Linked DNA regions of Homo sapiens. The protein of the gene in region 4 purifies or fractionates together with the protein of the main gene of each other region. This does not show direct contact. Each region holds a gene or a part of one and is shown on either strand. Other genes may lie near its edges.

Evidence for each region.
Region 1: the proteins of CCT8 (region 4) and TLE2 purify together in Homo sapiens (affinity purification with mass spectrometry; 3 studies listed by BioGRID and IntAct, with this or other methods). This does not show direct contact.
Region 2: the proteins of CCT8 (region 4) and PPP1CB purify together in Homo sapiens (affinity purification with mass spectrometry; 2 studies listed by BioGRID and IntAct, with this or other methods). This does not show direct contact.
Region 3: the proteins of CCT8 (region 4) and PDCL3 purify together in Homo sapiens (affinity purification with mass spectrometry; 3 studies listed by BioGRID and IntAct, with this or other methods). This does not show direct contact.

The regions. Positions count from the first base shown.
Region 1 is NC_000019.10:3,011,805-3,020,151, forward strand, and holds part of TLE2 (transducin-like enhancer protein 2), read right to left. Parts: intron 7,970-8,347; coding exon 7,895-7,969; intron 7,663-7,894; coding exon of another isoform or gene 7,660-7,662; coding exon 7,479-7,659; intron 6,056-7,478; coding exon 6,036-6,055; intron 3,957-6,035; coding exon 3,849-3,956; intron 2,811-3,848; coding exon 2,766-2,810; intron 2,015-2,765; coding exon 1,865-2,014; intron 1-1,864.
Region 2 is NC_000002.12:28,754,354-28,762,700, reverse strand, and holds part of PPP1CB (serine/threonine-protein phosphatase PP1-beta catalytic subunit), read right to left. Parts: intron 1-8,347. UniProt on the Homo sapiens protein: Protein phosphatase that associates with over 200 regulatory proteins to form highly specific holoenzymes which dephosphorylate hundreds of biological targets.
Region 3 is NC_000002.12:100,572,502-100,577,239, reverse strand, and holds the end of PDCL3 (phosducin-like protein 3), read right to left. Parts: intron 887-4,738; coding exon 744-886; 3' UTR 501-743; downstream 1-500. UniProt on the Homo sapiens protein: Acts as a chaperone for the angiogenic VEGF receptor KDR/VEGFR2, increasing its abundance by inhibiting its ubiquitination and degradation.
Region 4 is NC_000021.9:29,070,134-29,079,210, forward strand, and holds the start of CCT8 (T-complex protein 1 subunit theta), read right to left. Parts: upstream 3,516-9,077; 5' UTR 3,458-3,515; coding exon 3,398-3,457; exon of another isoform or gene 1,822-3,397; coding exon of another isoform or gene 1,819-1,821; intron 205-1,818; coding exon 114-204; intron 1-113. UniProt on the Homo sapiens protein: Component of the chaperonin-containing T-complex (TRiC), a molecular chaperone complex that assists the folding of actin, tubulin and other proteins upon ATP hydrolysis.

The DNA.
Region 1 (8,347 bases), on a different chromosome or scaffold from region 4:
ACGCCATTGCACTCTAGCCTGGGCAACAAAAGCAAAACTCTACAAAAACAAAAAACAAAACAAAAAAAAGGCAACAAAGTTACAAAGTTATAGGCTGTCAAGATTTGCAATTCTTTTTTTTTTTAATACAGGGTCTTGCTCTCAAAACTAACATGATCAGACAGGCGCTGTGGCTCACGCCTGTAATCCCAGCACTTTAGGAGGCCAAGGTGGGCGGATCACCTGAGATCAGGAGATCTAGACCATCCTGGCTAACACAGTGAAACCTCGTCTCTACTAAAAATACAAAAAATTAGCCAGGCGTGGTGGCACGTGCCTGTAGTCCCAGCTACCCACTACCCGGGAGGCTGAGGCAGGAGAATCTCTTGAACCTGGGAGGCAGTGGTTGCAGTGAGCCAAGATTGCGCCACCACACTCCTCCCTGGGTGACAGAGCGAGACTCCATCTCCAAAACGAAAAACAAACAAAAGGCACGATCATAGCTCACTGCAGCCTCAACCTCCCATGCTCGAGTGATCCTCCCGACTGAGCCTCCCAAGTAGCTGGCACTACAGGCACACGACTCCATGCCCGGCTAACTTTTTAAATTTTTCATAGAGACAAGGTCTCACTATGTTGCCCAGGCTGGTCTCCAACTCCTGTTCTCGAGTGATCGTCCTGCCTTGGCCTCCCAAAGCCCTGGGATGACAGGGATGAGCCACAGCACCCAGCCACTGTTGAGATTCTTGAACAACAAGGAATTAGAAACTCCGGGATGGGCTCGTGGAGAGGCAGACCCCACAGCGGCATATTCCCAGGTGAAGGAAGAGTGCCTAGCACACACTGCAATCCTCCTTGAGCCCCCACAGAGAGGGAGGTGTCACCCAGAGCTGTCCCTCCCCAAGGAGAGCTCTGAGGAAAGCAGCAGCTGGACCTCCATCTAGGGGCAGGCTCTGTTATCTCGGCTTCATGTCATCGCCTCCCCTGCCTCCCCTGCCTCCCAAGAAACTTCGCATCCTTGTCTTGCGTCTGTCTCGGCTTCCCATGACACCATCGCACAAACAGTGACAGCCACGCAACACCGGCACCCGCGAGAGAGTGGATGGGACGACTGTGGGGTCAGGGAGGACCCCTGAGGGCTTCTCCAATACAACGGAGCTGACCCATCCCCTTGTAAGGTTTTTCCCGCAGTGGGAGGTGGGCACTTAAGATGGAATGGGAGCCCCAACCTCTGGCGGTTGCCATGGTAACCTGCCAGGAAGGGAGGCCTTGAAACCGGGAGGGGAGGCCTAGAAACCGACATACTCTTCCCTGGTAAGTGTAGGGGAGGGGTCTGGAGAAGATTTGGGGTGAGGGGAGCTGCAAAAGGAGCTGAATTTCTAATGCCCTGGGGGTGCTTTTAGATGGCTCACATGCCTGGCATTAAACTCCAGGAGGTCCAACTGAAAACTTGTTCCTATATTAATTATCTTTCCTTCCGGGGACAACATCTCAGCTTGGGGCCGGTGTGTCTCTAAGCGCCTCTGGAAGGGCTCAACACATGCAGGCCTGAGTCCAGCCTAGCTGGCTGGGCTTTCACTATGTTTATTTCCATGGGATTTCCTATTGATTGCAAGAGAGAGACCTGCTTTCCATGTAAGGTAGTGAATTGCCTTTTAAAATTTATCTACAAAGCTTCTTTACAAAGTTGCCTTTTAATATTTACTGAGGTTCAACAAAGTCAGTCCAAGCAGGAGGTTTAAAAAAAAAAGCACAGGGAAAGGGTGGACAATGCCAGCCCGGCTGGCTGATTTCTCATCACTGCCCTCTGCATCATGGGGTAGCGTCTGCTTCGGGGCCCCCGGGATGAATAAAGTGAGTTTCAAGGCCCTCCCCTCCTCCTTACCAGGATGAGCTCCTTGGCTCTAGGCAGCGGTGAGCCAAGGCTAGAGGCCAAGGAGGCTGGACTGTCCACCAGGTCCCGACGGGCAGGAATGCAGATGGGTACCTTTCCGCAGGGGGTGGTAGCCGGGCTGGGGGGCTCTGAGGGTTGGTCCTGGGTTTGAGGAGGTGACGTTGAGCAGAGTTGAAATGAGAGGGAAAGAAGAGTCCCTTCTCTATCCTCCTCCCGACTCCCACCCCAATCTCTAGAATGGGTACCCATGACCCACCATGGGAAGATTATGAAATCTTCTGCTGCCTCAGTTTACTCATCTGTAAAATGTATTTTTTTTTTTTTTGAGTCTCGCTCCGTTACCCAGGCTGGAGTAATGGCCCACTGCAACCTCCGCCTCCTGGGTTCAAGCGAGCACATCCAGCTAATTTTTTTGTATTTTTAGTAGAGACAAGGTTTCACCATGTTGGTCAGGCTGGTCTCAAACTCCTGACCTCAAGTGATCCATTCGCCTCAGCCTCCCAAAGTGCTGGGATCACAGGTGTGAGCCACCACGCCCGGCCTGTAAAATGGGTTTAATGATAGGCTCTACTCCATAAGCACCCATAGCGAGGACTATATAAAGGCTTGGTTTTATTTTCCCATTGAACAGATGGGGAAAAGTGAGGCCAGGGAAGGGGGTGTCACTGCCCACAAATCACTCAGTGAACCTGGGCTTGAAGTCACTCCCTGTGCAGTGGAGAGGAGGTCGGCCAGAGGTGTCCCGGAGTCCCTGACGCTTCCTGACCCCATCCCAGCTGTCCCACAGAGCGGGGAACCAGGATCCCCACTACCTCTGGGTCCTCCCAGTCCAGAAAACCCACCCCTTGCTCTGTGCCCAGAGTCGGGGAAGAGGCTGGACCCCTGGACTCACCTCGTCCACCACCAGATTGTAATCACTCTTGTCTTCGTCGCTTTCCTGGGGGAAGATGGGGGAGAGAGCTCATTGTGGTCATGCCCCTGCCTCCACACCCCCTATCCGCTCCTCAGGAGTTGGAGGCATGAGCCCAGCCAGCCCTGGGGCATGACTGGGATTCTCAGACCACTGCACCCGTTTGCTCATAGCAGAAGGGAAGGCTGCACGTGCCCGCATCCGGGAAGGATGTGGGGAGGCAGGGCAGGTGGGCACCTTGTGGAGAGGACTTTGAAGGATGTGGACTACATGAGTGCCCTGTGTGACTCCCGGCCCTCTCAGGCCTCAGTTTACCCCTCTGCATGGTGAGGGGAGAGCCAGAGACCAGCAATCATCCTTACCGCCTTCATAAAGACTCCGCCTTAATAAATAAATAAATAAAATTCATTGCCAAAGAAAATAAGACTCCACCTTAATAAATAAATAAATAAATAAATAAAATTCATTGCCAAAAAAAAAAAAAAAAAGCTATTAGGTAAAAAGGAAGATTTAAGGCTTCTCTGAGAAACAGCAATATTGGCCCACCCTGAGCCTGCCAGTCTCCGGGGATCAAGTTGCAGCTGCCCCTGTAGGTGGGAGAAGGGGCTCCCCAGCTGGCCACAGCCCCATTCCCCACATTCGGCCTGGCCCCTGGGATGCTAGAGTTGGAAACTACAAGTGTGCAGCCGTCTGGCAATGAGAGGAGGTCCCAGCCTCTAGGAGGTGGTCAGGGAAGGCTTCTTGTAGGAGGTGGCACTTTGTTTCTTGATAGAAAAATGGGTTTCTAAAACATGTGTGTTCTAGGGAAAGAAAACAGCTGGAGCAAAAGCTAGAGGGTGGGAAAATGGCTGTACGGCCAAGAGGCCGCAGAGACTTCAAGCAACTGGAGTTAAGCCTTGCATTACAGGATCTCCTCTGATTGGTCAGTACTCTGAGTAGTAGGGAGCTATGGGAGGCTCCGGAGTGAGAGAATTATGGCCAGAGCTGGGCTCTGGAAGGCTCTGAGGGGCCAGGCTGGTCTGGGCCATGCACGCCCATCCCAGTCCTGCACCTGCCCCCACTCACATAAGGTCCTGATGGCTCCTTCTCATCTGCTCTCTGCTTCCCGCCACCACCAGGGCCACTCGGTCGCTCCTCCTCCACGAGACTCTCAGGGGGCGAGGGAGATGCACTCTGCGGAGAGACAAAGGCCGGGGGGAGAAAGGGTCAGGGCCCTGGGCTCCTAGATTGCATTGTGATCCAGCCGAGACTGAGGGTCCCCCACCATTATTAGGGTCCGGACCTCAAGCTTCCCATCTGGGAAATGGGAGCTTCCAACGGCTGACTCAGTGCTAAGGTTTTGTTCTCTCTTCTGTTTTGTTTTGTTTTTGACGGAGTCTTGCTCTGCTGCCCAGGCTGGAGTGCAGTGGAGCCATCTCGGCCCACTGAGACCCCCGCCTCCCGGGTTCAAGCGATCCTCCTGCCTCAGCCTCCCCAGTAGCTGGGATTACAGGCGCCACCACCACGCCCAGCTAATTTTTGTATTTTTAATAGAGACAGGGTTTCGCCATGTTGGCCAGGCCTATCTCGAACTCCTGACCTCAGGTGATCCACCTGCCTCGGCCTCCCAAAGTGCTGGGATTACAGGCATGAGCCACCGCAACCAGCGCCTTACTTCTTCTGCAACCTCTCTGACATCTATAATTATTTCAAAATTAAACCATTTTGGCCGGGCGCAGTGGCTCACGCCTATAATCCCAGCACTTTGGGAGGCCGAGGCGGGCGGATCACAAGGTCAGGAGATTGAGACCATCCTGGCTAACACGGTGAAACCCCGTCTCTACTAAAAATACAAAAAAAAAAAAAAAAAAAAATTAGCCGGGCATGGTGGCGGGCACTTGTAGTCCCAGCTACTTGGGAGACTGAGGCAGGAGAATCACTTGAACCCAGGAGGCGGAGCTTACAGTGAGCCGAGATTGCACCACTGCGCTCCAGCCTGGGCGACAGGGCAAGACTCAGTCTCAAAAAAAAAAAAAAAAAATTAAACCATTTTTTGAAAAACTTACTGACACAGCTCACATGACATTTCTGTTGGGGAGCACCCACAGATATTGCTGAACGGCTGATGGCTAGGCGAACGGAAGTGAGGATGGGAAGAAGGGTCCAAGGTCATGCATTCATTTATTTAATTACCCGAAAAAAGCTGGAGGTTGAAATTTTTTTTTCTTTTGAGATGGAGTCTCGCTCTGTCGCCCAAGCTGGAGTGCAGTGGCGCAATCTCGGCTCACTGCAACCTCCGCCTCCCGGGTTCACGCCATTCTTCTGCCTCAGCCTCCAGAGTAGCTGGGATTACAGGCGCCCACCACCACACCCAGCTAATTTTGTATTTTTAGTAGAGATATGGTTTCGCCATGTTGGCCAAGCTGGTCTCGAACTCCTGACCTCAAGTGATCCACCCACCTTGGCCTCCCAAAGTACTGGGGTTTTAAACACTACAGCCTTCTGGGTATCTCCCACACAGAAAGGCTTCAGGAAACCGGGCTATGGATCTTGTTTTTTTATTGTTGTGGTTGCTGTTGTTTGTTTTTTGAGACAGAGTCTCATACTGTCGCACAGGCTGGAGTGCGGTGGTGCAATCTCGGCTCACTGCAACCTCTGTCTCCCAGGTCCAAGTGATTCTCCTGCCTTGACCTCCCGAGTAGCTGGGATTACAGGCACCCGCCGCCACGTTTGGCTAATTTTTGAATTTTTAGTAGAGACAGGGTTTTGCCATGTTGGCCAGGCTGCTTTTGAACTCCTGGCCTCAAGTGATCTGCCCACCTTGGCCTCCCAAAGTGCTGGGATTACAGGCACGCACCTGGCCTGGTTTTTTTTTTTCTTTCTTTCTTTTTTTTTTTTTTTTGAGACAGGGTCTTACTCTGTCACCCAGGTTGGAGTGCAGTGGCACGATCACAGCTCCCTTCAGCCTTGGCCTTCTGGGCTCAAGTGATCCTCCCACCTCAGGCTCCCGAGTAGCTGACACAACAGGCATGGACCACCACACCCAGCCAACTTTTTGTATTTTTCTGTAGAGACGGGGTTTTGCCATGTTGCTCAGCTGGTCTCAAACTCCTGGCCTCAAATGATTCTCCTACCTCTGCCTACCAAAGTGCTGGGATCAAAGGCGTGAGCCACCATGATCGACCTAGGTCTCATTCTGAGGCCCCCATCAGCTCAGAACCAGCGTTGGCCTCCCAAGAATATAAAAAGAGTCCCAGGGTGCCACTCACTTACCCTGCTCGGGGCTCTCTCCACTGACAGATTGGGAATGGGATAAAGAGAAAGAAGGAGAAAGAATGAGGCGTTTGTATCCACGGCGCCAGAGGGTACAGCCCTCCAGTTTATAAAGCCCCCCGCCCCCACCACCCCACTCAGAGTCTCTCTACCCTTCCAACACCCTTGCAAGTGGTGGATTATCCCTCCCCTGCATTCAGATCAATGCCCAGAGAGGGATAGTGACTTGCCTCAAGACACACAGCCCATTGGGGGTGATGTTGAACCCCAGGGCCTTGCAGCCGCTCTCATTGATCCCCTCACACTTTACGAGTTGGGGTCTTGCTCTGTTGCCCAGGCTGGAGTGCAGTGGCCCAGTCACAGTTCACTGCAGCCTCGAGTTCCCGGGCTCAAGTGATTGTCCCATCTCAGCCTCCCGAGTAGCTGGGACTCCAGGGGCATGCCACCATGCTTGGCATTTATTTATTTATTTATTTATTTATGAATGAGACAGAGTCTCACTCTGTCGCCCAGGCTGGACTTGGCTCACTGCAACCTCTGCCTCCCAGGTTCAAGCAATTCTCTTGCCTCAGCCTCCCGAGTAGCTCAGATTACAGGCACCCACCACCATGCCCAGCTAATTTTTGTATTTTTAGTAGAGACAAGGTTTCACCACGTTGACCAGGCTGGTCTCAAACTCCTGACCTCAGGTGATCTGCCCGCCTCGGTCTCCCAGAGTGCTGGGATTACAGGCGTGAACCACCGTGCCTGGCTATCTATTTTTATTTATTTATTTATTTATTTTAATTTTTTTGAGACAGAGTCTCACTCTCTCACTCAGGCTGGAGTACAGTGGCACAATCTTGGCTCACTGCAACCTCCGCCTCCCAGGTTCAAGCGATTCTCCTGCCTCAGCCTCCCGAGTAGCTGAGATTACAGGCACCCGCCACCACTCCTGCCTAATTTTTTTTGTATTTTTAGTAGAGATGGGGTTTTCCCATGTTGGCCAGGCTGCTCTCGAACTCCTGGCCTCAGGTGATCCAGCCACCTCGGCCTCCCAAAGTGCTGGGATTACAGGCATAAGCCACCATGCCCAGCCTGTGCTTGACTAATTTTTAAATTTTTCATAGAGATGGCGTCTTGCTATGTTGCTTGGGCTGGCCTCTAACTCCCGGCCTCAAGTGATCCTCCTGCCTCGGCCTCCTAAGTACCTGGGAATACAGGTGTGCACCATCCCACCCAGCAAATTTTTAAATTTTTGTAGAGACGGGGTCTCGCTCTGTTGCCCAGGCTGGTCATGAACTCCTGGGCTCAAGCGATCCTCCCGCCTCGGCCTCCCAAATTGTTGGGATTATAGGCATGAGCCACTTCATCCCCTCACGCTGATGTTTGCTACCCTGGACTGCCAGTCGTCCTCCCCAGCCCCGTCTCCCCAGCCAATGCCACCCCGTGCTGCCCACTCACCTCTGGACCCCTCGGCCTCCACGCCCGCACGGTCCTCCTTGACAGCCGCCGCCAGCTGAGCCTGGGCAGCCAGGGCTCCAGACAGAGCAAGCAGCCCCGTAGCACTGCCGCCCACCAGCCCGGCTGGGCGGGGGGTGAGGGGCACAGGGGGTGCGTGGTGGGACAGCGGCTGGAGCTGCTGCTGCTAGAAAGGAGGCAGGATGGGCCGGGGCGGGGGGCGGCAGGAGCCCAGCGGTCCCCAGCCCAAGAGGTAGACACAGGGGATGGGACCTAAGCACAGCATGTGCCCCTGGGGTTCCCAGGACCACTGGAGCCAAGGCCCACACACCACCCCAGCTTTAACACCTCCTGGGTGGGTGCCAGGGACCTGGGAGTGGGCGTCTCCCCATGGCGGGGCAGGGGCTAGAGAGACTCACCCCGATGAGGCTGTTCAGCTCCCCCACGGTGACCTGCTTGGCGCGTTCTACGGCCTGGAGCACCTGCTGCTGATGCTGGCGGGTGGAAGGGATCAGGTAGAGGGTACATTGAGCCCCTGCTCATGCTAGCGGTGCCCTTGGGGACCTGACCTCTCCCCGCCACCCTCTCATCTTTGCCCCGGTACTTCCCATTTCTCTTTTATCTTTTTCCCTCTCACTCTCTCCCTTTCCTTTTGGAATTTTGAAATAAGCACACGGAGAAAGAAACCAAACCTAAGTGCAGGTAGAATAGTTACAAATCAGGCCGGGCATGGTGGCTCACGCCTGGAATCCCAGCGCTTTGGAAGGCTGAGGTGGGCAGATCACCTGAGGCCAGGAGTTCGAGACCAGCCTGGCCAACATGGTGAAACACCTGTAATCCCAGCTACTCAGGAGGCTGAGGCAGGAGAATCG
Region 2 (8,347 bases), on a different chromosome or scaffold from region 4:
CAAGAAAGATCAATGGATTTTAATGTAAGAGAACATAAAAATTCATGGATATAATTTCAGATTCCACATCTCTTTTAAAATTCACCTTTAAAAAACCACCACTTGCTGATTTTTGGTATAAACATCAGAGAATACCCACAATTATCTAGAACAGCTATTAAACTACTCCTCCTTTTTCTAACTACGTATCTGTAGGACTACAGACTTTCTTCATATTCAACTAAAACAAGGTATCAAAAGACTGAAACAAAACAGAGATGTGAATTCAGCTGTCTTCTGTTAAAAAGACATTAGATTTGCATAAAATGATGGCACTTCTCACATTTTTGCTTTAGAAAAGTTATCTTCATAAAAAACATTTATGCTAAAATGTAATATGTTGCTACTTAAAGAACAGATATTTATTTATTTATTTAGAGACACAGTCTCACTCTGTCGCCCAGGCTGGAGTGCAGTGGCGCAATCTCAGCTCACTGCAACCTCTGCCTCCCAGATTCAAGCAATTCTTGTGCCTCAGCCTCCCAAGTAGCTGGGAATACAGGCATGTGACATCACGCCCAGCTAACTTTTTTATATTTTTAGGAGATGGGGTTTCACCATGTTGCCCAGGCTGGTCTTGAACTCCTGGCCTCAAGCAATTCCACCCGCCTCGGCCTCCCAAAGTGCTGAGATTACACGTGTGAGCTACCATGCCCGGCCGAGAACAGAAATTTTTAAATTCTCAGTTTTAACTTCTAATGCAATATTGTTAAATACCTCACATAAATAAAAGCTCGTTTTCAATTCTTTACATATATGGAGAATTTGAGTGTAAGAGGGTCTCAAGACTCAAAGTTTAAGATACACTGCCCTATAGTTCCTGGCCAAAAGCAAGCATACAACAGTGTTAAATCACTTTTCACCATTTTATCCTACCTAGAAATACCTTTCCCTCTCAGCACCAACACTGATATGTCAAACCAGATTATAAACGCTGAATAATGGGAATAGTAAAGAAACTGTTATACGTACTTACATACAAGAATAGTGGTTATATGCAATAAACAGAAAGTGGAGGAAACAGTATCTGTCACATACTTACAAGAAAGCCTTCTCAAAATTAGTATGGGGAAGTTCCAGGACTCAGTGGCACAAAGAGCTCTCTGTTAGTATTTCCTAGCTCAGGTTTGTACTAAGCAATAATGACGGCTAACATTTTCTGACCTTTAATGTGTCAAGAATTGTTTGAAGGCACTTACTATCATATATGCAGAAGAAACTGGGGCTGAAATACACCCAGAATCTGTGTCGTTAATCATTATATAAGATGGCATCCCAATGTATCAATACTTATTAATATTTGAGTAAACACTTAACTGAGTAAACATCTGATTATCATTCAGGATTCACATAATTCTAGTAGTTGGGAGTCCGAAATTCACAAAAGCTATTCCTTTCTGTCATCTAAAATCAGACCTCACTCTTTCTCACTGACAGGTTTGCAAGTTTCTCCCCCTCAGAAGTCTGGTCTCGGCCGGGCGCGGTGGCTCACCCCAGTAATCCCAGCAATTTGGGAGGCCAAGGTGGGCAAATCACAAGGTCAGGTGTTCGAGATTTAGTGAAATCCCATCTCTACTACTAAAAATACAGAAAATTAGCTGGGCATGGTGGCAGGCGCCTGTAATCCCAGCTACTCAGGAGGCTGAGGCAGGAGAATCGCTAGAACCCAGGAGGCGGAGGCTGCAGTGAGCCGAGACTGCACCACTGCACTCCAGCCTGGACAACAGTGTGAGACTCCATCTCGGAAAAAAGAAAAGGTCTGGTCTTTTTGTCTCGCTAGTTTGGCTCAAGTATTTGATAGTAATTTAAATAAAACGCTCAATTCAAACCACATTGAGGAAACATACAAGTACCTATAAAGATTCCTTCTTAATTTACTATTTAAAGTTTTAAAATACGTGATTACAACTGCTAGATATGACATTAGTGAAAGCTATGTAACACCCAATATACCTAACCTTTTATTATGAAAACTTAGATTTTGATTTCTCCAAATCTTGAGAATGAGAGGTAGGACTAGGGGGAAGGTTAAAATGGTGTCAGACAAGTCCAGTTATGCATCATTTACCAAAGGGAAACTTCCTGAGAGATGCACAGTGAGGTGATTTTGTTGTTGTGCAAACATCACAGAGTGGACTTACACAAACCTAGATGGTATAGTCTATTGCTCTTAGGCTACAAAGCATGATGCACAGTATGTTACTGTACTGAATACTGCAGGCTACTGTAACACAATGTGCTTGTATATCTAAACATATCTAAACACAGAAAAGGCACAATGTATATACAGTAATAAAGATAAAAATATTTTTCTTTCTTCAAGAATAAATTAACCTTTGCTTACTTAACATTTTTTACTTTAGAAACTTAAAAAAATTTTTAAACATTTTGAATTTTCTAGTAACGATTAGCTTAAAACAAAAGCATATCATACAGCTGTACAATATTTTCTTTATATCCTTATCCTATTAAGCCTTTTCCTATTTTTAAAAATATTTTTCACTTTTTAAACTTTTGTTAAAAACTAAGCCATATACACACACATTAGCCTAGGCCTACAGAGTCAGGATCATCAGTAACACTATATTCCGCCTCCACATCTTCACTGGAAGGTCTTCAGGGGCAGTAACATGCATGGAGCCATCACCTCCCAGGATAACGAAGCTTTTTTTCCTGGAATGCCACCTGAAGGACATGCCTGAGTCGGTTTTAACTAGTTTTTTAAAATAAGAATATATTCCAGGGCCCTGCGTAGTGACTCAAGCCTGTAATCCCAACACTTTGGGAGGCCGAGGCAGGCGGATCACCTGAGGTCGGGAGATCAATACCATCCTGGCTAACACGGTGAAACCCCGTCTCTACTAAAAATACAAAAAATTAGCCAGGTGTGGTGGTGCACGCCTATAATCCCAGCTACTCAGGAGGCTGAGGCAGGAGAATCACTTGAACCTGAGAGGCAGAGGTTGTGGTGAACTGAGATCGCGTCACTGCACTCCAGCCTGGGCAACAAGAGCGAAACTCTGTCTCAAAAAAAAGAAAAAAAAAAGGTAAATATATAACATAGCTGTTTATTACCATTATCAAGTATTATGTACTCTATATAATTGTGTTATACTTTTTTTTTTTTTTTTTTTTTTTTTTGGAGATGCAGTCTCACTCTTTCGCCCAGGCTGGAGAGCAGTGGTGCAATCTTTGCTCACTGCAACCTCCACCTCCCAGGTTCAAGTGATTCTCCTGCCTCAGCCTCCTGAGTAACTGGGATTACAGGCATATGCATGCCACCAAGCCCAGCTAATTTTTGTATTTTTAGTAGAGATGGGGTTTCACCATGTTGGCCAGGCTGGTCTCGAACTCCTGACCTCAAGTGGTCCACCTGCCTTGGCCTCCCAAAGTGCTGGGACTACAGGCATGAGCCACCACGCGTGGCCTGTTGTACTTTTACACAACTGGCAGTGCAATAGGTTTACACCAGCACTACCACAAACAAGAGTAATGCATTGCACTATGACATTATGCCTATGATGTCACTAAGTGACAGGAATTTCTCAGTTCCATTCTAATCTTACAGGACCACTAACTACCTTACATGAAGTCCACTGTTGACCAAAACATCATTTGACAGAACATATGACTATACTCAAACCAAGAAAGTGTTTTGGTCACCTTGCAACTGACCAGATGGGAACTTCTGTTACTTAGGGATATTCTGATTAACATTCTTAGAATAAAATTCCTTTATGGTGAAATATGCTATGTTAAAACCTCCCAATTATGCAAGGGTGGGCATGCATCAAAAAGCAAACGCTATTCCCTCTGGGATATGCACATATCATCAATATCTCCACTTGTCTTTGCACAGATGCAGGTAAATTTGGCAAGGGAGGGTTCTGAGGCCAGTGATGTTCACGAAGGTTATACATACTCTCACAAATCACTGTGCTCCACATGTGAATAGTGCAGAGGCAGAATAAAGGACAACTGCCCCCGCCCTTTTTCCTACTGTATGACAAGTACCCATCTAGACCAAGGACTGACTTCCTCTATCAAATCAGGAAAAAACTGGCTACTGGTTATTTATACTTGAATAAGCCTTGAAATGGCTATTTAAAGCTGCTAGAAGCAGTGGCTGCTGCCTAAGGGTATCAATCTGTATCCAATCACAAATCCTAGAAGACTCCACTGGGAATCCCCATCTACCACACCACTGCTAAACCTACTGACATTTACAAACTATTTCTTCCCCTTGCCTCCCTATATGCCACCAACATTCGAGAATAACCTTTCAGAAATACATAACAGAATTTAAGTCAGTATTTCTAAGAATCTTAACATTCCTTCATACCTGTATTACTTTACCTGTTAGAAATGTTTGAAAATGGGGCTGGGTGCCTGTAATCCCAGAACTCTGAGACTGGCCTGGGCAACAAAGTAAGATTCTGTGTCTACCAATTTTTTTTAATTAGTGGTGCATGCCTGTGGTCCCAGCTACTTGTGAGGCTGAGGTAGAAGGATCACTTGAGCCCAGAAGGTTGAGGCTGCAGGTGAGCCATGTTCATGCCACTGCACTCCAACCGGGTGACAGAGCCAGACCCTGCCTCCAAAAAAAAAAAAAATTAATTAAAAAAAATTAAAAATGCATGGCATTGGAATGTATACTCTTTTAAAAGTAATAAACGTGGAGAATAAGGAAGAAAAAGACCTACTAGATGCAACTATCTTCCCCACTAATCCTGACTCTTAATGTGGCTTTGTCTCTAGACTCAATTTAAATAATGTATTAAATCCCAACGAATCTTCATCTTGGATTTAGATATTTACCAGAAAAGCTCCAGGTCTGCATTCAGATAGCAAAATAAAAACACCTCTGGGCTACTTCTTCAAACTGTCAGTTTCCCTTACTTGCTGAACTTAATTCAGAGAAAACAAACACCTAATCTCTGAATCAGTTAAAAAATATGCCACGACCTTATGTCTCCTCTAGTATCTCATCCAGAAGAATCAAGGAGATAAAATATTCCTCGGGTGATCTCCCCCACTCCCCAACATGCTCTTTTTTCTAACAAGTCTAGCTGCACATCCACACAAAACACCTTCCCTACAGAAGTGGAGGTTGTCGGCAACAACTGACACTTCTTTCCAACCACCTAACCTTTAGGTTGCTGGGTCAGAATTAAACAATTTAATCAGTAAAGAGGCCTTAAACAACCTGGCAGCTCATCAAAAAGTTAAACATAGGGCTACCATATGACCTAGAAATCTCACTCCCAGCTATATACCCAACGGAATTGAAAGTATATGCCCACAAAAAAAAACTTCTACACAAATGTTGATAGCAGCACTACAAGTATTCACAATAGCCGAAAGAAAACAAAATGTCCATCAACTGATGAATGAATTAAAAATGTGGTGTATACATACAATGGAATATTATTCAGCCATAAAAGGAATAAAGTACTGATACATACTACAACAAAGATGAATGTTAAAAACATTAAAAGAAACCAGTCACAAAAGACAACATATTGTATGATTTCACTTGCATGAAACGTCCAGAATAGGCAAATCTAAGAGACAAAAAAAAGTAGATTAGTGGGGGCCGGGAGGGAATGGAGAGAAATGGGGTGTCTGCTACCGGGAACAGGGTTTTTTGGGGGGTATATGTGTTTGAAAATATTATACAGTTCACTGTGGTGATGGCTGCACAACTCTATAGTATACTAAAAATCATATCCTCTAAATAGGCAAACTGTATGGTATGTGAATTATATCTGGATAAAGCTGTCATTTTAAAATGGAGGGCTTTAATATGCTTTCATTAATCGATTTCATTTTTCAAATCCATTCATTTTTTTTAACCTTCAAAAGGACACTACAGGCTGGGCGCAGCACCTCGCACCTGTAATCCCAACACTTTGGGAAGCCAAGGCTGGAGGATTGCTTGAGCACAAGGGTTCAAGACCAGACTGGGCAACCAACATAGGGAGACCCCGTCTCTACCAAAATAAAAAAAATTAGCCAGCCAAGGTGTCATGTGCCTGTGGTCCCATCCACTAGGGAGGTTGAGGCAGAAGGATCGATTGAGACCAGGAAGTCGAGGCTGCAGTGAGCCATGATCAAGCCACTGCATTCCAGCCTGTCTTGAATAGGAAAAGTTAAAAGTGTAGTCTGTCAGCCTAACTAAATCTTAAGAGTACTATACCTGTTTCACAAGAAAGAAAAGGGAGATACGCACTAAGAGATCACAAGCAGTGTCACAAATTCAGACATCTGACAGGTCAAAGTTAAATGAAAAATGAATTTAAAAAACAAAACAGGTACAAACACATCCCACGATTTTCATAAAACTGTAAGTGGGCCAAAAATGTAACACAATCACATTTTGCTATGGAACTTTACACAGTGCTAATATTCTACAACTCATATTGTAATAGTCAAGTTCAGCTTCGTGGTAATATGTTAAAAAATACTTTAAGAAAAACTTTTCTATCACACAGCAAATCGCTTTTCGGTATTTTTGAAGACATTTCAATGACAAGGGAAAATGTTCATGATGTAATACTACATGAAAAATTAACTCATAAAGCTATGTAAAGAATATTCTAATGATGTAAAGCATGTGAATTTTACAAAGTATGTTAAGTATCTTTAAACAAAAATATATCAAAATTTCAACAACGGTTATCTCTGGATTGTGGAATTACAGGGGACTTCTTGAAAGAATGCTGCCCTTTCATAATCAGGAAAAAGCAAATTCTAAACAGTTTCATATTATCACATATATGACACATAATAGACATACTATATCAACTGGCACATCCCAGTTTTTAAATACCTGGATCAAGACTGTGGTTGGGAACAGAGCTGGCACTCTTATTCACCCAGCAGCAGTTTTCCATACTAACCTCCTCCCAAATGCATTAGATTCTACTCATTCCACTTCACTTCCTCCAAAATAAACTTAGCACTTATAGTTTGAATGAAGTTCCCCAGATGATTCTGCTATACTCCCATTTCCCACCCCTCTTTGAGAACCACTCATCTAAGTAAGAAGCTTTTACCGGATTTTCCAGAATACTCATACAAACTAGCTTCAATTTAAATGATCAAAACACTATGGTAAGCCACAAGAATGTGGCCAACAGGGTCACTACAGGGGATAAAGTAGAAGTCTTTGGTTTTTAGTTCTAAGCAAAAGTTAATCCAAGAAAACATACCGAAAGAATATGCACCGTCCAAATAATAAAATCAATATTTCTGTTTTACATTAAATGGCATGTTTGTATTAAAATGACCTAAAGGACTCTTTGAAAATATCATATCAAGGTCAGGCGCGGTGGCACATGCCTGTAATCCCAGCACTTTGGGAGGCCGAGGCGGGTGGATCACTTGAGGATGGAAAGTTCGAGACCAGCCAGGCCAACATGGTGAAACTACTAAAAATACAAAATTAGCCGGGGCGTGGTGGCATGCTGTAGTCCCAGCTACTTGGGAAGCTGAGGCAGAATAATCGCTTGGACCTGCAGGGGCAGAGGTTGCAGTGAGCCAACATCACCCCACCGCACTCCAGCCTGGGTGACAAGCGCAAAACTCCGTCTCAAAAAAACAAAAAACAAAAAAAACTTATCAATAATACGCCCACCTAAAAAAGAAAAACAAAAAGCAACTCATAAAATGTAGTCACCAGAAGTGTGTATAGCTGATCTGCGATTTAATACAGTAAAAAAGAAAAAACAATCAGGAATATGTTGTGGGGCTACAATCAGCATTTTAAAATGAGATCAGGTCCTGCTGAATGTTTTCCCCTAATGCAGAGAAATTCTTGCCAAATTTTTACTTACACGTTCATTTGACACTAAAAACACTAACCATAGTTATTCTTGCTAGGCAGCTTTACAAAATATCACTAACTAGCATCTAATATCACTGAAAATCCAGGTGGACAAAATTTTCTTTGAAGATTAAAAATAATTATTTACTAGAAAATTCAAGTCTGCTCTGGACAAGTCTTTCAACAGGTCTGGATCTGGGAAGGAGCTGAAAAACCTAGAATATTTAAGAATCCCTTGGGGGCACTGTCAAACTAAATATGCTTCTGTAGGATGAAGAAGTACTGATAGAATGTGTGCTGAACATAGGACAGAGAGGAGGCTGAAAAAGCCTGAAAGACACTTGTTTAGACTGGGAGCTCCTTGAGTGAAGAGACTGTGTCTTATCTTAGGATTGCTGGTGCCTGGCAAGGAGGAGGTCAACTTGTTAACGCTTGCTAAATTAAGAGAGAAACGTATCTGGACTACAATTCTTACCCGCC
Region 3 (4,738 bases), on a different chromosome or scaffold from region 4:
CGTGATGGTGCACGTCTGTAATCCCAGCTCCTCAGGAGGCTGAGGCAGGAGAATTGCTTGAACCCGGGAGGTGGAGGTTGCAGTGAGCTGAGATTGTGCCACTGCACTCCAGCCTCAGCAACACAGAAAAGCTCCATCTCAAAAAAAAAAAAAAATTAGTTAACAGTCTGAGATAAACTATTTTAACAAGAAAACACATTTAACCAAATATGGCAGTAAACTGGAAACTTTCAGTTATTGCTTCAATAAGGGAATGTTTCACAAAAATTGTCTGTTTCTTCAATACTAACATTCTTTTGTCCTAGAGACCATTCCTGTAGTTTAATAATCTCACTGCTCTCTTTATAAAATAAAAATAAACAATGTATCTATAAGGCTTAGTCTGCAATTTTCCACTGTATAATTTATTCACATTTAAAACTGTATTTCTTTTTATAGTTATATGTCAAAAAATAGTGACTAGGTTTTATGGCTTACTTAAAATATAAATGAGGAAAACAGACATTTGCCATACAAATGGCTGGTTTTAATTTTTTTTAGAGGAAATACTATAATTTAAAAAAAAAAAGAGTTCCAAAATATTTAACAGAATCTCCAGCAATGATTATTTCCAAAATGTAAAGATTTGAAACATAATTTATACAAAACTAAAAACCACAAGGATTCATTCTTGCTTTTTCCTTTTTTAAAAAATCCAGACAATTTGTCACAAGAAAGTTCGGCATGTGATAGAAGCTGTAGCCTCAGTCACCCTCGGAATCGCTGTCCCTCTTCATGAGGACAGAGCGCCGCACTGAGGACAGCAACACGTCTTCAATCGGCTTCTTAGGGTTTTCCTCCAGGTCTGTCATAATTGCTCCAGATTCAGACAGTTTCCATTCCAACTCTATATGGTAAAGAAAAAGCAAATTGCCTAAGGCACTGTGCTGCAAAGGTTCCCTCGCCCTAAGTCCATCAACCTAGTTTTTTCTAAGTAGAAAATACAATTATCGAAATTTGGCCCAGCACAATGGCTCACGCCTGTAATCCCAACACTTTGGGAGGCTGAGGCAGGAGGATCACCTGAGCCTGGGAGGTAGAGGTTGCAGACATTTAAGATCACACCACTGCACTCCAGCCTGGGCAGCAGTGAGACTGTCTCAACAATAAAAATAAAAGTAAATAAAACATAAAAATTCACTGGGTACAGTGGTGGTGTGTGCTTATAATCCCAGCTGTTTGGGAGGCTGAAGTGGCAGGATCGCTTGAGCCCAGGAGTTCAAGGCTGCAGTGAACCATGATCATGTCACTGCACTCCAGCCTACACGACAGAGCGAGACCCTGTCTCAAAAATACAAAGAATAAACCTATCCTCTGATGACTACAATTTCCCAGGAAGGAAATCAGCATGAAAAATTTGAAGGAAATAATTTCCACAGACCTTCTGGCAATCTAATCATTAAATCCAATTTTAATAAACTCTTCAGCCTCATGTCCAGTATCTCAATCTATTGGGGTCAAAGAATAAATGTATGGTGATACCCTAGAACTTACACATTTGTTCCAACTAATCAAAAAAGCACCAGATAATAAAGAATCAGTAACTGAAGACTCAGCTCCAATACTTCACTCTTAAAATCAGCAAAATTCTTGTGGTCTGAGACCAAGTGAAGCAAAATCAAGTGATGTATTTGCCTACTTCAGAGAAGAGCCCAGGCAGAACCAAAGGACTACGTAAGAGATTCTACAACAAATGGCTTCGCTTAAAGGAACATCAAGGCAGAGAGTTCTGCTAACTGGACACATCGATTAAAATCTGAAAACCAGGCCGGGCGCGGTGGCACATGCCTGTAATCCCAGCACTTTGGGAGGCCAAGGTGGGCGGATCACGAAGTCTGGAGATCGAGACCATCCTGGCTAACACGGTGAAACCCCGTCTCTACTAAAAATACAAAAAATTAGCCAGGCATGGTGGCAGGTGCCTGTAGTCCCAGCTACTCGGGAGGCTGAGGCTGGAGAATGGTGTGAACGTGGGAGGCGGAGCTTGCAGTGAGCCGAGATCGCGCCATTGCACTCCAGCCTGGGCGACACAGCGAGACTGTCTCAAAATAAAAAAAATCTGAAAACCAATTTTACTGAAGTCTTATCTTAATCTACTTTTTTGGAGACAGGCTCTCACTCCATCACCCAGGCTAGAGTGCTATGGGTGCAATCATAGCTCACTGTAACCTTGAACTCCTGGGTTCAAATGATCCTCCCGCCCATCTCCCTAGCAGCTGAGACTACAGGTGTGCACCACCACACCTGGCTACTTTCTTTTTTGTAGACATGGGATCTCGCTATGTTGCCCAGGCTGGTCTCAAACTCCTGGCCTCATGCAATCCTCCAGCCTTAGCTTCCCAACATGCTAGGATTACAGGCTTCAGCCAACGTGCTCAGTTGAATTTTACTTATTAACTTAAAGTGTTCCATGAAACAGAGAATAGAATGGTGGTTATCAGGGGAGGAGTGGAAATGGGAGATGTTGGCCAAGGATACAAACTTTCAGTTATAAGATGGTAAGTTCTGAAGACCTAATGTAGAACATGGTAACTACAGTGAATAATAACGTATTGTATACTTGAAATTTGCTAGGAAAGTAGATCTTAAGGATTCTCACCACAGTGAGGGCAGCTATGTGAAATGATGGATGGTTAATTACTTGGATTGTGGTAATCATTTCACATTGTACCTCTATTAAATCTCCATGTTGTATATCTTAAATATATTCAATTGTTTTGGTCATCATACCTCAGTCATGCTGGGTAAAAAAAAAAAAAGTGTTCCACGAAGATGAGTAACACCAGTATTTTCGGCTCTAGGTACTTTGGTTGAATGTTATATAAATTCAACCTGTTTCTTAAAAAAAAAAAAAAACAAGACTTCAGATTCCTGACTCAAGAATTTATATCCAGCCAGATGTGGTGGCTCAGGCCTGTGATCCCAGAACTTTGGGAGGCTGAGGCAGGTGGATCACTTATCACTTGAGGTCAGGAGTTCACAACCAGCCTAGGCAACACGGTGAAACCGTCTCTACTAAAAATACAAAACTTAGCCAGGCATGGTGGCACATGCCTGTAGTCCCAGCTACTCAGGAGGCTGAGGCACGAGAATTGCTTGAACCCGGGAGGCTGAGGCTGGAGTGAGCCAAGATAGTGCTACTGCACTCCAGCCTGGGTGACAGAGCAAGACCCTGTCTCAAAAATTAAAAAAATATATATATCTCTCTCTATATATATATCTTTATATATCCACACATACGTACATAAGTGTTTAATGTTACTGTTCACTTACACAAAGCAATCGTTATATGTAAGTTCACTAGACTTCAAGACTTTTTTTTAGAAATAAAAACAATTGCACACTTCTCTCTCCCCTCATGGTACATTCAAAAAAGGTCAAAATAAGATGCAAACATGTATTTAGTTTGAAATGCTGTACGCCTTTGAACACTGGAATATGTAACTGATGTATCTCCTATATGTGTGTGTTTATGTATGTTTGTATATTTATACTTTCCCCAGCTGAATATCTTTTTTTTTTTTTTTTTGAGATAGAGTTTCGCTCGTTACCCAGGCTGGAGTGCAATGGCATGATCTTGGCTCACTGCAACCTCTGCCTCCCAGGTCAAGTGATTCTCCTGCCTCAGCCTCCGAGTAGCTGGAATTATAAGTGCCCGCCACCACGCCCAGCTAATTTTTTGTATTTTCAGTAGAGACAGGGTTTCACTATGTTGGCCAGGCTGGTTTCCAACTCCTGACCTCAGGCAATCCACCCGCCTTGGCCTCCCAAAGTGCTGGGATTACAGGCATGAGCCACCGCACCCGGCCGCCAGATGAGTATCTTAGTGGTACAGTATATAAAGTCATGTTTAAAAATGTCTTTCTGGTAAAGCATAGTTGGAAATATTATTTCAATAAAGAGATAAAGAGTTTCACTTGGCAAGAATGCCTCTGGGCTGAGGTTCTCCTTCACGTTCTGTGTGGGTATGTATTTTGATACCTCCATGTTTAACAGGTAGAAAGGAATTTAAAAACACAGCCGGGCGCGGTGGCTCACATCTGTAATCTCAGCACTTTGGGAGGCTGTGGCGGGCAGATCACGAGGTCAGGAGTTCAAGACCAGCCTGGCCAACATGGTGAAAACCTGTCCCTACTAAAAATACAAAAATTAGCCAAGCGTGGTGGTGGGCGCCTGTAATCCCAGCTACCTGAGACGCTGAGGCAGGAGAATTGCTTGAAACCAGAAGGTGGAGGTTCCAGTGAACCAAGATCGCACCACTGCACTCCAGCCTGAGCGAAAGAGCAAAACTCCATCTCAAAAAAACAAACAATCAAACAAAAACCACATCCTTCCGAGCTAACAGGCAGAATTAAATAAAATTTTAATTTAATTTAAAAGCTGGCCAGGCGCAGTGGCTCACGCCTGTAATCCCAGCACTTTGGGAGGCTGAGGCGGGTGGATCACCTGAGGTCAGGAGTTTGAGACCAGCCTGACCACATGGAGAAACCCTGTCTCTACTAAAAATACAAAAAAATTAGCCAGGCATGTTGGCACATGCCTGTAATCCCAGCTACTAGGGAGGCTGAGGCAGGAGAATCACTTGAACCTGGGGGGCAGAGGTTGCAGTGAGCCGAGATCACGTGATTGCACTCCAGCCTGGGCAAGAAGAGTGAAACTCTGTCTCAAAAAAAATAAATAAAAGCTACTAGCCGGGCGC
Region 4 (9,077 bases):
TATCAAATTAACTTCCGAAGTCATACCATAACATCCTCAGAACAAGTCTGAAAGAAGACGTAGTACACAATATTCTACTACTGTATCTTTACAAATATTAATTTAGAAATTACCATTTGGTCCATATGCTGTACGAGTGGTTTGGGCAAGCTCCTTGCAAGCTTGTATGTTTCTATACACAGCCTCTTCTAATCCTGAAAAGTGCTGTTAAAAAAAACAAACAAAAAACCCCGCTAATTAGACAGGACAGTGAAACAAAAATTTCAAATACAAGATATCTTTGCTTATATCTTGCCTCTAATAAAGAGGGAGCATAGCTTAGGTATTTGGCACAAGAGGGCTGGTTGCAAATCTTAGCTTTCTGGCTCTTTTTAAATTTGGGCAATTTTCTTAACATTTCTTCATTATAAAATGAAGTAATTATAATAGTACCTAACTCATAGGATTGTTGAGACAATCAAACAAGATTTTTTAATGTAAAACACAGCATTTGATATTCATAAATGATGCATACATTTCCTCTCTAGTTGAATGAATAAAGTATAACATTTTGGGGGACCGCAGGTACCTACTTACACATCAAAAGACTTAAAATTTTTTTTATTAAAAGTAGTGAAAAGTACAGGGAACCATGCTAAGACTAATTAGAGAAAGGGTATGAGGTACTTCAAGTAGAATACCTTTCCAGAATTTATCAGTATTTTCTAACTAACTGTTGAAATGTGGAATATTCTTATTGTGTTAGAATCTGGGCTTTTGTAAAGCCAGAAGTTCTTTAAGTATGTGCCACTGAAGTGTTTAGAGACTGAATACTTTTTTTGAATTGCAACATTATCCCAATGTATATGTATTGAAAAGCGAACTGCTCACGGTACTAAAAATTCTCACAAATTCTACACTGGACTTTTTTAGAGTTGAGGTTTACTTGGGTCCTCAGATATATTTCACTAATCTACTGTGCATGAGAACATTTCTTTAGAGAAGCGCTGCCCAATACAGTAGCCACTAGCTACATACATGGGGCTAGTGAAAGCAATCAAAATAAACTTTCAAGTAATTAAAATTAAAAAATTCAGTTCCTCAATTGCAGGAGCCACAGTTCAAATGCCCAGTAGCTACATGTGGGTAGTGAATATCACACTGGACAGCGCTGATACAGCGTATGTCCAGCACTGCAAAAAGTTCTATTTACATAGTACTGCTTTACAATACAAGCCATGATTTTGTGATCCAAAACCAAGGTTAATAGCCATTACTCTTTTTTGAGAGAGAGAGAGTCTCCTCTATCGCTCAGGCTGGAGTGCAGTGAGCTGAGATCGTGGCACGATCTCAGCTCACTGCAACCTGGGCCTCCCGGGTTCAAGCAATTCTGGAGGCTCAGCCTCCTGAGTAGCTGGGATTAGAGGTGCGCGCCACACCAGGTTGGTTTTTTTTGTATTTTTTTGAGAGGCGGAGTTTCACCATGTTGGCCAGGAACTCCTGGCCTCAAGTGATCCACTGACCTCGGCCTCCCCAGTGTTGGGATTACAGGTGTGAGCCACCAACCCCTGCCAATAGCCACTGCTTTAAAAGCATCTTCAGCAATAAGAACTGTTATTCCAGCAATAACACTTAAGTCTGAACTCCTGGCTTACACTCTTGCTTCTTCCCCTCACTCCCCATTCTGTGAGAAACTACCATTTGATCAGATCCCCTCATTCCCATACTTAAGACCCTTCAATGGTTTCCCAACCAGCTTAGGATAAAATGCAAATCCCTTTTCAAGGAAACAAGGCCCTACGTATCCCGGCCCTTGTATGGCTCCTCCTCTGAACTTACCATTCTTCCTTTCTTTGGTAAGCTTCAGCCCTACAACCTGTTGTTGTTGTTGTTGTTTTAAAAAAAAAACAGGTCAAAATCATTCCTTCCTCAGGGTCTTTGTACTAGTTAGTCCCTGAGCCTGGCATTTCCCCCTAAGTAAGAGGTCGGGGGAAACAGCCCAGGCTCAGGGGCTTCTCTCACTAAGCACTGAGCTAAGAGTTCTTCCCTAAACGTCTAAGTGTTCTGTCTATTCCTGATCCTTCTTTTACAGACATTTTTACCTCCTGTCATCCTCTACTATAGTGCAGTTTCTTTCATCATTATTTGGAATTCTCCTTTTATTTAATCATTATTTCTGCCTTAGAAGGACATAAACTCTACGACAAATGGGACTTTTGTCTTTCACTGCAGTTCCTTCAGTACCTATTTATTGAAAGAAATAGCTCAGTGTTCTGTAAAAAACTACTAGCACTGGAATGACAAATAATGTTTTGTGATACACGAGTTTTCCAAAACTGTATTAGTGAAAAAAACCCAAATTGGAAGCTATTATCTCAGCCTGATTTTTTCAAGGGAATCAGCCCATATCATTTTCAAAAGATTATTCCACCAACATTTACCTTGAACCCTGACATTTACTTACTATACCGACATTATTTGAAAAGTGCATCCTACAAACATGAACCTAGTTCTATTAAACTGTTAATGCTCCCCGTACCTCGCATAAAACCTTAAATTCAACCACACTGATCTATTTCTTGAATTAACAAAATCTGGAGGACACACAGAGGAATGCAATTTGAATAGCACAAGAGACAAATTTATCAATAGTGCAGTAAGATATTTTTTAAAACTATGCTACCGAACTAACGTTCAAGAAAAGGCCATTAAACAAAAGTGTTATCTGCACCCCTCTATCACTTATCCTGCAGATTACACAGAACTCAAAGACACCACCTCTTGGTCCAATCTCCATAATTTAAAGACGAAGGAAACAAAACCCAAGAAAGTTACATTTTAGATTAAGCCAGCTAACATAAGTTGGGACCGGAACTCATTTGGCTACAACGCATGGCTTCTGTCAACTAAGCTGAAAGCCGTATGTTTCTCACTGGGAAGCAAGCAACCAAGACCCGGCCCTTTTTCCCACTCTCTTCTCTGGATCGGCTAGTTCTCGTTCTTCCCCATCCTACAACTCGCGAGCTATGTGATAATCGACGTCGCAGTTCTCAAGACAATTTCATCTACGTTATTCAATTTCACCCTCACAACCTCCTTTAAGGGTGACGGGCCTTAGCCCCATTTACGGATGGAGGCAAAACGCACGCGCGGCTTCACATCCGTCCACCTTCAAGGTGTACAATGTCGATCGTGCCGCCGATCCCTCGGCCTTCTCCCGGTCGCGGAAGAAGAGAAGTGCCCGCAGGCTCCGGTGGCCGAGCCCTTCCAAAATCACCTCCCTTTCTGGAATCTTCTCTTCCCCCGGCCGCTGAGCCAGGGCAGCACGCTCAGCCCGTTAGTAGGCCCTCCTACTTCGCCGCGGCCGCCGCAGCCCTATGCTGACGCTCCCACCTCATTCCTTTCCTTCAGCCCTTACTTTCGCTCCCTCCTTGAGCATCTGGGCAAAGCCCGGAGCCTTGGGAACGTGAAGCGCCATGGCCAGCCTGCAGGAAGCAGTTCACGCGACCGCTCGGAAGACCGCGGAGGAAGCGAGGAGCACGCACAGCCTTCTGGGAAAGCAGCGTGGGGCCGCCTCACGCTCTTCCTGGCTCTCCAATTAGCCCACCCTTTCCCTGCCGCCAGGTCTGAAGCATCGCGAGAAGAGCAACCTCTGTGGCCAGAACCAAGCTGACGATCCCCGATCGGGTCGATCGATAGGGCGGGCCCAGGGAGCCCCTCGGGTTTCTGGCTCACGCACGCGCAGACAGCCCAGGCCGTGAGAGGTTGCTCCAGTCTGTGCTCTCTGACCGTAGTCAGTAGTCACGGCGTTAGATTTTTGCGGTTTTTGATCTGGAAGCCACACATCCTTAGCTTAATTTCCACGTATCTTCCAGACCCAGCCACCAACGTCAGGGCAGGTGTGCTTTTTTTTTCCCGAGGCAGAGCATCTGCCCCATCCCCCAAAATTGTCTCTAGGCGTCCGCTCTGTGTTGGGCACCATAGGAAGCGCTGGGAATGCGCACGATAATTAAAGTCGTCACTAAGAGTAATGTAGTACACATCAAGTGCTCAAGTGTGCCATATTCTGTGTGATCTGCTTTACATGCAGTATCTCTGTTAATGGTCAGTCTTAAAAATTAATGAATTGTCGGTTAAAATACCATTTAGTTTTCCTTCCATAAAATGGAGACGATACCATTAAAAATTAAAAATTAAATGGTACTGTCTCTATTTTGTAGAAGGGAAACTGAAGTTCACAAACTGTAAATAATTTTCCCAAGATCACAGAGCTAGTAAATATTAAAGCTAGAATTCCTATCTAGATCAGACTTATTGCAAAATGCCGGTTCTTAACCACTATCTATATTCCTCTTTTCTACTTCTTCCTGGGAATATAAATCCCTTTTACTCTTTTAAGATCAGATATAAATACATATTTATTTATCTGATTTATATATATAATATACACATTTTATATAAATATATCTGATTTATATATGAATTTATAGATAAATATAAATCCCTTTGGCTTGGTGGCATGCACCTGTAGTCTCAGCTGCTTGGGAGGCTAAGGTTGGAGGATCTGCTTGAGCCTGGGAGGTTGAGGCAGCAGTGAGCTGAGATCATGCCACTGCACTCCAGCCTGGGCAAGAGTGAGGCCCTGTCTCAAAAAAAAAAAAAAATTGCAAAAATGTAAATGCCACTGATATGGTTTGGATTTTTGCAAAAATGTAAATGCCACTGATATGTTTGAATTGCCTGCCCAAATATGATGTGGAATTATAATCCCCAGCTGTTCTTGTGATAGTGAGTGACTTCTCATAAGACCTGGTTGTTTAAAAGTGTGTGGCACCTCCCCACTCTGTCTCTTCCTCCTCCTCCAGCCTTGTAGGATGTGTCTGCTTCCCCTTCACCTTCCACCTTGATTGTCAGCTTCCTGAGGCTTCCCCAGCCATGCTTCCTGTACCGCCTGTGGAACTGTGAGCCAATTAAACCTCTTTTCTTTATAAATTACCCAGTCTCAGGTAGTTCTTTATAGCGATTCGAGAACGGACTAATACAGCCACCCTTTTCATTCTTGGAAAATAGAGATATTTTAAATAAAAACATACATATTATCATGTGATAGGATTATTATTTTTTAAATAACGTTAAAAATTTATCAGTTTTAATTTCTAATATAGCAAATATTCATACCTATAACCCACATAAACAAAAGACCTTTGGGGAAGTTAATTTTTAAGAGTCTAAAGGTGTTCTGAGACTGATACGTTAGAGAACTACTGTAATGATCAGTCCCGAACAACAGAACAATCCAAGATTTTTCCTGGATTAGCTAAGAAATAAACAAAAGCACATTCCTCTGACTCAGAGATAATATTACTTATAAAAATAGCTAACACAAAATAAAATTGAAATAAAACTGAAAGGAGCTAAAATGACACCTGATTAACATATTAATATATATTAATCTATATTTAAAGTGACTTTGAGGCCTAGGTTCTGGTCCTTGTCTCACTGGTATCTTCTCCATTTGGCATTAATGTCTTGTATTCTGGCCCCAGTACCTGGAATAGTTCGTGCTGTCTGCTTTACCACTTCTGCCTCAGGGTCTTTGCCTCTGCTGTTCTTCCTACCTAAAATGCTCTTCTATTCCCTTATGGCTGAATTAATTCTACCTCAGTATGCAGACACTTTCATTAGAAAGTCTTTGATGACTCCCAAGACATTCCCTGTTTGTCATTCTCATAGCTTCTGTGTTTCTCCTTCATAGCACTTACCACAGTTGTAATGACAGAATTATTTGTCATCTTTCTCCACCAGCAGGTAGGTGGTGAATCACCAGCACTTATACTGTAATTGGACAATGCACGGAGTAAGGAGTCAATAAATCATCATCAAATGAACTACTGGGTGACCAAATGGATATCCAGAAGAGGAGATCGAAGAATTAAGGTGCTGTGGTCTCAATGTTTGTGTCCCTCCAAAATTCATGTTAAAATCTTAGGCCCTGAAGTGATGGTATTACGTAGGGCCTTTTGGGAGATGATTAGTTCATTAGGTCTCCACCCTTATAAAAGATTAGCGCTCTTATGAAAGAGGCCCAGGGGAGCTTATTTGCCTTTCCACCATGTGCTGACACAGCTAGAAGGTACTATCTATGAACCAGGAAGCAGGCCCTCACCAGACACTGTATCTGCTAGCACCTTGATCTCGGACTTCCAGCCTCACGAACTGTGAGTAACACATTTCTACCGTTTCTAAGCCACCCAGTTTGTAGTATTTTGTTATAGTGTGTCTGGAATTGGTGGGTTCTTGGTCTGACTGACTTCAAGAATGAAGCCGTGGACCCTCGTGGTGAGTGTTACAGTTCTTAAAGGCGGCGTGTCCGGAGTGTGTTCCTTCTGATATTCGGATGTGTTCGGAGTTTCTTCCTTCTGGCAGGCTCGTGGTCTCGCTGGCTCAGGAGTGAAGCTGCGAACCTTCGCAGTGAGTGTTACAGCTCTTAAGGCACGTCTGGAGTTGTTTGTTCCTCCCAGTGGGTTTGTGGTCTCGCTGGCTTCAGGAGTGAAGCTGCAGACCTTTGCAGTGAGTGTTACAGCTCATAAAGGCAGTGAGGACCCAAAGAGTGAGCAGCAGCAGGATTTATTGCAAAGAAAAAAAAAGCTCCCACAGTGTGGAAGGGGACCCAATCGGGTTGCCACTGCTGGCTCTGGCAGCCTGCTTTCATTCTCTTATCTGGCCCCGCCCACATCCTGCTGATTGGTAGAGCCCAGTGGTCTGTTTTGACAGGGCGCTGATTGGTGTGTTTACAATCCCTGAGCTAGACACACAGGTTCTCCATGTCTCCACCAGAGTAGCTAGATACGGAGTGTCGATTGGTGCATTCACAAACCCTGAGCTAGACACAGGGTGCTGATTGATGTGTTTACAAACCTTGAGCTAGATACAGAGTGCCGATTGGTGTATTTACAATCCCTTAGCTAGACGTAAAGGTTCTCCACGTCCGCACCAGACTCAGGAGCCCAGCTGGCTTCACCCAGTGGATCACGCACTAGGGCTACAGGTGGAGCTGCTTGCCAGTCCGCCGCCGTGAGCCCACACTCCTCAGCCCTTGGGTGGTTGATGGGACTGGGCGCTGTGGAGCAGCGGGCGGCGCTCGTCGCGGAGGCTCGGGCATGGCGGGCTGCAGGTCCCTAGCCCTGCCCTGCAGGAAGACAGCTAAGGCCAGGCGAGAAATTGAGCACGGCAGCTGCTGGCCCAGGTGCTAAGCCCCTCAACTGCCCGGGGCCGGTGGGGCCGGCAGGCGGCTCCGAGTTGCGAGGTCCGCGGGGCCCACGCCCACCCGGAACTCACGCTGGCCCGCAAGCACCGCGCGCAGCCCCGGTTCCTGCCCGCACCTCTCCCTCCACACCTCCCCGCAAGCTGAGGGAGCCGGCTCCGGCCTCGGCCAGCCCAGGAAGGCGCTCCCACAGCGCAGTGGTGGGCTGAAGGGCTCCTCAAGTGCCGCCAAAGTGGGAGCCCAGGCAGAGGAGGCGCCGAGAGCGAGGGAGGGCTGTGAGGACTGCCAGCACGCTGTCACCTCTCAATAGCAGCCCAAACAGATTAAGACATGGGAGGTATGGTCTCTATTCTTACCATCCAGACGTATGTGAAGTAAAACCAGAGAACAACACAAAGCAATCAAGAGGGTTTTTGCGCAGAGTTTGCAAAACGCCAAGGAGACTGTAGGTTTCTGTTATAGTGATTCAAAAGCCTGGGATCCTCATGTTAGGTGCTGCCTGAAAACATGGCCTCCAGCCTCCAGGAGAGCTAAAAGCCGTGAGGATTGGGGGTTGGGGATGTCTGAGCCATCTTAGGATTCTGATAAGGACTCAGTTCACTATTTGTTTCTAGTTACTTTGTTTCTGTTTTTTTCATTTTTTGTTTGTGTTAAAGTTTTAACCCCTGTACGTCAGAATTGTTTAATGTTTTTGGCTTGTCTATGTGTTTTGATTTTTTTTGTATTATTATTTAATTTTCCCAATTCCCATTAAATCCTTAACCTCCTGACTTTTCTTTTTCTGCCTCCATTTGTATTGTTTATTTCATGTTACTATATCATCTTATGTTTCAGTATTTTTCTGTTGAATTTTAATTCTTTTGTTTGGCTTTGGAGTCTGACTCATTTTGTGTTGGCTCATTATTTTGCTTCAGGATATTTTTGTTGTTGTTAAAATCTTTTAATATTCCTTTATAAATTTAAATTTTTTTCTCTTTTAATCGAATTTATTTGGGCTTAAGAGGGCACAATAATTTATACCCTTATTCACTTTCTGAGTTTGGAAACAACCAAGAAAATAGAGGGGTCAGGAGGCTGGAATTCAGAGTCTCGCTGGACTACAGAGAACGTGGCTTAGGGTGAAAGCACAGGCATGCTGGGCATCATTGCTGCTTTGCACTGATCAGAGAAGGAGAGACTTTAAATGGGTTAACTCCATGCAATCAAGAAAGGTAGCCCCATGTCAATCCCTTACCAGTGAGGTAACTTCCAATGTGGGTCAGAAGGAGTGGATTGAGAGGCCGAGAACTGGGGGTAACCAAAAGAGTAAGACTAAACAATACTCTCCTCTCAATATAATTGTTACTTTTGTTCATCTCCCTGTAAACCTCCCTCCCACTCTTCTGCCTTTTATCTATGGAGTGGGGATGAGGTTGAGGGGAGACTCGGCCTACGACTACCATGTTGGTCCCACAGCTCCACTTAGTTTCTGTCAAGCACACATGAGACAAGGCATGGCTAAGGTAAAGTCCTGACTGATTCGACTGGTAAAGATGCAAGGACACTTTTTTAGAATCAGACCGTTTATTCATTACATAGATGACAAAAGGAAGACTAGCCAAATGTGCCAACTCCTTGAGGTCATTGTTCTGCTCATCAAAAAGAATGACACTGAAACCAAAGGGACTTGGAGATTGCAATGCGAGTTGGGTAATGCAGCTCGGTGGTTTTGTGTTCTGCCACTCTATTAAGAGAGGGTGAAGCAGGAAGACCCACGTCTCATCAGAACACTGGAGGTGATGAGAAACTGCTTCATGACAGCTTCCCAGGTGAGATCAGGAGGTGAAAGGAAGAT